2 linked regions of the Homo sapiens genome follow. The protein of the gene in region 1 purifies or fractionates together with the protein of each later gene. This does not show direct contact. Each region holds a gene or a part of one and is shown in the gene's direction. Other genes may lie near its edges.

The links. Proteins that work in one complex are often made in the same cells at the same time.
Region 2: the proteins of WDR44 (region 1) and ARHGEF1 fractionate together in Homo sapiens (co-fractionation; one large-scale study listed by BioGRID). This does not show direct contact.

Annotation. Positions count from the first base shown.
Region 1 is NC_000023.11:118,394,606-118,398,105, forward strand, and holds part of WDR44 (WD repeat-containing protein 44), read left to right. Parts: intron 1-643; coding exon 644-739; intron 740-2,364; coding exon 2,365-2,501; intron 2,502-3,500. UniProt on the Homo sapiens protein: Downstream effector for Rab11 which regulates Rab11 intracellular membrane trafficking functions such as endocytic recycling, intracellular ciliogenesis and protein export.
Region 2 is NC_000019.10:41,893,184-41,896,683, forward strand, and holds part of ARHGEF1 (rho guanine nucleotide exchange factor 1), read left to right. Parts: intron 1-90; coding exon 91-120; intron 121-1,023; coding exon 1,024-1,123; intron 1,124-1,267; coding exon 1,268-1,364; intron 1,365-1,442; coding exon 1,443-1,478; intron 1,479-2,165; coding exon 2,166-2,303; intron 2,304-3,193; coding exon 3,194-3,299; intron 3,300-3,500. UniProt on the Homo sapiens protein: Seems to play a role in the regulation of RhoA GTPase by guanine nucleotide-binding alpha-12 (GNA12) and alpha-13 (GNA13) subunits. Acts as a GTPase-activating protein (GAP) for GNA12 and GNA13, and as guanine nucleotide exchange factor (GEF) for RhoA GTPase.

The DNA of each region.
Region 1 (3,500 bases):
CTTTATATGCTAGGAAGCGGGCTACACAAAAGACTTGATAACACTAATTTTACCACAGCCAGATTCTGGGACTCAGAGCTACTTACATGGTAGCTGTGGTGGGCCAGGCTACCACACTAGAATATAGGACACTATAGTCTTGTTATAGCCTTAGAGCAGGGGTCAGTAGTGGCCTGCTTTAGGAGGTTCCCCAAGCTAAGAATGTTCTTTACATTTTTAAAGGTTGTTTAAAATAAGAAGAAGAATATGTGACAGAGACTCTATATGAACAAAAATGCCTTAAATATTTACTGTATGGCTCTTTATAGAGAGAAGTTTTCTGACCCCTACCTTTGAGGTAGCCACATACAGTCCAGATTAATAGCAGTCTTAGTAGAGAAATGCCTTTTGGCCAGGTTCAAATAGAACATTTATTTGTTTTCAAGAATACTAAGACATTATTTCATGAGCAGCAATAGTTTTGGTTCCTAATGTTTTTCAGCATGCTGGGAAAAATGAAGGACTGAAACGTAATGTTCCATTTAGATTTTCAGCAGACTCCATTATCTGAATTATGAAATTCTTTAGAATTATATGTGGTAATAATTGAAAATTTATAGAAATTGATTCAGTCTAATTTCTGTTTATAAAATTATATTTCCAGGAAAATGGAAAAGCACCTGATGGGCAGACTGTAGCAGGTGAAGTGATGGGCCCTCAGAGACCTAGATCCAACTCTGGGAGAGAGCTTACTGATGAGGTAGAAATAGATTTTTTTGTTCTTGTTCTTAAAACATAAAGTACAAAAAACATAATGGGAAGATGAAAACGTTCTGGAGATGGATGGTAATGATGGTTGCATGACAATGTGAATGTACTTAATGACCCAGAACTATACACTTAAAAATGGTTAAAATGGTAAATTTTATGTTATGTGTAGTTTACCACAATTTAATTTTTTTTAAGTTTATTGCTGTTACACACAAAAAAAAATACAGAAGAAAAAATGAAAATTGAAGATTGTCTTTGTTGATATGCTGGATGTAGCATCTCTGACTTAAACTTGCCCTTTCACTGTGTTGCATAGTGGAATAAATATATTGAAAGCAAGGTTTATATTTTATAGAAAGTGGGCTTTAAAAGAACTTGATATTGAGGCCAGGTGTGGTGGCTCACTCCTGTAATCCCAGCACTTTGGGAGGCCAAGGTGGGCAGGTCACTTGAGGTCAGGAGTTTGAGACCAGCCTGGCCAACATGGCAAAACCCTGTCTCTACTAAAAATACAAAAATTAGCCAGGCATGGTGGTGTGCATCTGTAATCCCAGTTACCCAGAGGCTGAGGCAGGAGAATCACTTGAACCTGGGAGGCGGAGGTTGCAGTGAGCCGAGATCACACCACTGCACTCCAACCTGGGCGACAGAGCAAGACTCGGTCTCAAGAAAAAAAATTTAAAATAATATAATAATAAAAGAACTTGATATTATGAATATATGTTATACCAAAATAAATTTTTTTATTATTTTAATGGTTTCTTATCATTAAAACTTAGTATGCACCTATTAGCCAACTTATTCAGAATTAAATTTTACAGCAAAATCTTAGTTGATGTTTCTTTAAAACAATACATTTCTTAAAATATTGCACTTTGGAAAACAGTTTGGCAATTCCTCAAAATGTGAAACATAGTGTTACCATGACCCAGCAATTCCGTTCCTTTGTATATACCAATGAGAAATGAAAACATATGTTCACACAAAAAAATGTACACAAATATTCACAGCATCATCATTCATAACAGCCAGAAAGTGGAAACAACCCAAATGTTCATCACTGATTGGATGGATAAATAAAATGTGGTATATTCATACCATGTTATATTTTTTAGCAATTAAAAGGAATGAAGGGATAAAGTACTGATACATGCTACAACATGGATAAACCTTGAAAACATCATGTTAAGTTAAAGAAACCGACATAAAACGCCATATATTACAGGATTTGATTTATATGAAATGTATGGAATAGGCAAATCTATAGAGACAGAAAGTAGATTGGTATTTGCCAGGGGCTAAAAAGAAAGGGAAATGAGGTGTGACTGCTAATGGGTAGGGAATTTCCTTTTGGGGTGCAGAAAATATTCTGACTTAGTGGCAATAGTTGTACAACTCTGTGAATATACTAAAAACCATTGAATTATATGCTTTAAATGAGTGCATTTTGTGGCATGTGAATTATATCTCAATAAAAATGTTAGAAATTATTGTGTGCAGTATTGAATATATCTAAAAAGCCTTTAGCTTAAATTTTAGGGGATTTTGTAGACTCAAAAAGATAATTAAATTGCAGGTCATCTTGGTGTGATTGTTTTTTTTTTTTAACCTCAGGAAATTTTAGCCAGTGTAATGATTAAGAACCTGGATACTGGAGAAGAAATACCTTTGAGTCTTGCAGAAGAGAAACTACCAACAGGCATTAATCCTCTCACTCTACACATCATGAGAAGGACAAAAGAATATGTAAGGTATGGCCTAATGTTGTTATTTGTCATTTCTAGTATTTCAGAGTTGTTAAGATTTCTCTGTTAATGAACTATGACAACCCCTAATTTGGTTTCATTCAGTCTTTTTTCTTCTGGAATTAAAATAGAGTTAGATAATGTATGTATTCTTTAACTTTGCTCTTCATTATGACTGTACAGTTACTTGGGGAAAATAGTATAAATATTAAATCCCATAGCACTTAATTTCTCTTTTTTAATGATTTAAATTATACTTGAGACAATATAAAAACAGTGAGGCAGCCAGGCGTGATAGTTCATGCCTGTAATCCCAGCACTTTAGGAGGCTGAGGCAGCACTTGAATTCAGGAGTTAGAGAGGAGCCTGGGCAACATAGTGAGACCTCATCTCCACAAAAATAAATAAATAAATTAAAATAACAGAAAAATGAGGCTAAAAAGCTATGTAGAATGAACACTTAGTCTTCTGAAACCTTGCTTTAAGGATCATAAATTGTTTAAATATTTGTACTGTTTTTGTAGGATCAGAAAATGGCTTTAAAATGAGATGAGTGACTTTACTACGAGATGTATGTGGATCTATTGAATCATTTTGGTAAAAGCAGGAGCTATTTTATTAAATGTAATGCAGGATGTACTTAATGAGTGGGGAGGAAGATACCTACAAGTTACTTTATTATTTCCCTATAGCACATTTTGCCAAGCAAAAAGGTTTGTTTGTAGTAGGTTTTTCATAAATTTCTAAATTGCATTCATTTACATGTTGTACATTGAACCTTGCTTAAAGATTCTTTTCTTCAATTTCTGAAGCCTTTAAGTTGTCAGGTCCATCATTTAAATTAAAATTATATGGGCCGAGCACAGTGGCTCACACCCGTAATTCTAGCACTTTAGGAGGCCAAGGTGGGTGGATTGCCTGAGCTCAGGAGTTCGACACGAGCCTGGGCAACATGGTGAAACCCTGTCTCTACTAAAATACAAAAAATTAGCCAGACATGGTGGT
Region 2 (3,500 bases), on another chromosome or scaffold:
TCCCAGGACAGCAACCCTGAGATGTATCCTGGGTGGATGGGGACCCCAGGCCTAGCAAATATGTCACAAACATCTCTCTTCCTCCTACAGACATACCATCTCTACCGACGAAGAAAAGAGGTGAGGGGGGCAGGGGAGGCGTGCGGCCTCCTGGGTTTGAGGGAGGAGGGGGCTGAGGGCCTGGACTCCTGGGTCTGAGGGAGGAGGAGGCTGGGGGGCCTGGACGCCTGGGTCTGAGGGAGGAGGGGGCTGGGGGGCCTAGACGCCTGGGTCTGAGGGAGGAGGGGGCTGGGGGGCCTGGACGCCTGGGTCTGAGGGAGGAGGGGGCTGGGGGGCCTGGACGCCTGGGTCTGAGGGAGGAGGGGGCTGGGGTCCTGGACGCCTGGGTCTGAGGGAGGAGGGGGCTGGGGGCCTGGACGCCTGGGTCTGAGGGAGGAGGGGGCTGGGGGCCTGGACTCCTGGGTCTGAGGGAGGAGGAGGCTGGGGGCCTGGACTCCTGGGTCTGAGGGAGGAAGGGGCTGGGGGGCCTGGACGTCTGGGTCTGAGGGAGGAGGGGGCTGGGGGGCCTGGACGCCTGGGTCTGAGGGAGGAGGGGGCTGGGGGGTCTGGACTCCTGGGTCTGAGGGAGGAGGGGGCTGGGGGCCTGGACTCCTGGGTCTGAGGGAGGAAGGGGCTGGGGGCCTGGACTCCTGGGTCTGAGGGAGGAGGGGGCTGGGGGCCTGGACTCCTGGGTCTGAGGGAGGAGGGGGCTGGGGGCCTGGACTCCTGGGTCTGAGGGAGGAGGAGCCTGGGGCCTGGACACTTGGGTCCTGGGCATTGGGTAACAGCCCTTGCCCCTGTCCTTTTGAACCCTCTCATCTCTCCTCAGAGTCTCACAGGAAGTAGTTGTGGGGTCAGGATGGGAAGGCCGGGCCTCTGCCTCTAGGGGGAGAGAGAGAGAGTGTGTGTGTGAGTGTGTGTGTGTGTGTGTGTGTGTGTGTGTGTCTTTGTGTGTGTTGAGCCCTCACTGTCCCTTCCCTACAGTGCTGCCGTGGTCAACGCCATTGGCCTGTACATGCGCCACCTTGGGGTGCGGACCAAGAGTGGAGACAAGAAGTCGGGGAGGAACTTCTTCCGGAAAAAGGTGCTTCCCTCAGTGCCCCGTCCTGACCCTTTCCTCTCCAGAGACGCCCTGGGAGCCTCATGACTCTGGATACCTAGCGTCAAATTCTGCTTTGTTGTTGTCTCAGAGATGCTTAGCCTGGTCTTCCTCCCCGCCCTCTCACAGGTGATGGGGAACCGGCGGTCGGACGAGCCTGCCAAGACCAAGAAGGGGCTGAGCAGCATCCTGGATGCCGCCCGCTGGAACCGGGGAGAGCCCCAGGGTAAGGCGGCTCTGGCCTCTGCCCTCCCCTGTCTTCCCCAGCTGCTCCCACTCACTGTCTCATTCTCTCTCGTTTCAGTTCCAGATTTTCGACACCTCAAAGCAGAGGTTGATGGTAATGTACCTGTAGCCATAGCATCCATACTGGGGGCCTGTGTGGGAGAGGCTAGGACCTGGACGCCTGGGTCTGAGGGAGGAGGGGCTGGGACCTGGACGCCTGGTTCTGAGGGAGGAGGGGATGGGGGCCTGGACACCTGGGTCTGAGGGAGGAGGGGCTGGGGGAGCTCCTGGGTCTGAGGGAGGAAGGGCTGGGCCTGGACCCCTGGGTCTGAGGGAGGAGGGACTGGGCCTGGACCCCTGGCTCTGAGGGAGGAGGGGCTGGGGGAGCTCCTGGGTCTGAGGGAGGGAGGCCTGGGGCCTGGACCCCTGGGTCCGAGGTAGGAGGGATTGGGCCTGGACCCCTGGGTCTGAGGGAGGAGCGGCTCAGACTCGGACTCTTAGGTCTGAGGAGGAAGGGCTGGGCCTAGACCCCTGGGTCTGAGGGAGGAGGGGCTGGGGGAGTTCCTGGGTCTGAGGGAGGAAGGCCTGGGGCCTGGACCTCTGGGTCTGAGGGAGGAGGGGCTGGGGGCCTGGACTCCTGTGTCTGAGGGAGGAGGGGTTGAGGGCTCCTGGGTCTGAGGGAGGAAGGGGCTCCTTGTCATGGTGGGGAAGGGCCTGAGCACAGCCTCTTGCATCCCCTGGCGGTTGTGGATTTGAGTTACTGTTCTCTTATCTCCCTCTTTCTCCCTCACTGTCTCCCCAGCCGAGAAGCCAGGTGCTACAGACCGGAAGGGAGGCGTGGGGATGCCCTCTCGGGACCGGAATATCGGGGCTCCTGGGCAGGACACCCCTGGAGTCTCTCTGCACCCTCTGTCCCTGGACAGCCCAGACCGGGAACCAGGTGAGAGTTTCCTGGGCCAGGGCTCCATGAGGCCCGGCGATCCAGGGTGGGGGTGCTGCCTGCCCCCTTGGCACCCCCAGATAGAAGCCATTCCCCAGCAACACCTCCCCTTTGCTCTCAGCATCCACTTCTCCCTGCTCCTGGTCACCACTGTCATTCATAACTTTCCCCTTCCCTCAGTTTGCCCTTTCCACAGCTTTGCTCCCAGGCTCTGACCTCTCTGCTGGTGCTGCGTCTCCCACCCCCTTGGACTACGTTTTCCATCAACCCTTCCTTTTCCAGAACCTTCCCTGAGTACATGACCAGTCCACCCTCTGAGCTGCATTGCTGGCCCCCTAGGTGGGGAGCCCGCCAGCCCCATGAGCTTCATCCCTCACCATCCTTACACTGCTGTGGCCTCAGGCCCTTGGATCTCTGCATGGCCAGGCCAGGGCTCACACACCAGCTCTGCTGACTGCTTGTGTTTATTTAGTATCTTGGATATGACTCCCCTTTCTTAGCCTCCGTTTGCTTTTCTCTAAAGGAGTATGAGAGGGTGGGGAGGATGAATGGACGTGGAGGCAGCACAGAATCCAGGGCCCTCCCGACCTCAGGGGGCTGCAGTCTGGTTGGGTGGGAGAGATGTTTGTGACCTATTTGCTAGGCCTGGGGTCCCCATCCACCCAGGACACACAGGGGCACCCACTTCTGTTGCATCTTCATGCTCCTGCCCCTAGTGGCCATGTTCTGAGAGGTCTTAACATCTGTCCGTCCCGTGCTGAAGTACAGAGCAGCCATGTGGTGTCTGCCAGGCACTGGGTAGCTTTAGCCCCCGCAATTCCAGGCCCCCAGAGTGTGGGTCTCGTGGCCGCAGAGGCCTTCCAGCCAGCCCTGCTCCCTCCACCCCACAGGTGCTGACGCCCCCCTGGAGCTGGGGGACTCATCCCCGCAGGGCCCAATGAGCCTGGAGTCCTTGGCGCCCCCAGAGAGTACCGACGAGGGGGCCGAAACCGAGAGGTGCCCAGGCTGGGGTGCAGGGGCGGGAGGTGTGGCTTACTGGGCGCTGGTGGGTGGGTGCAGGGTCACCGCTGCCATCTGTGCCTGCCTGTCCCAGGCTCTTGCTCCCCATGCTCCTCTGCTGCTCTCTGGGTCTGGCCATTCCTCTCCCTTCTTCTTTCCTTTTCTCATCTCCCTCCTGCTTCCTCATTGCCCCCCTTT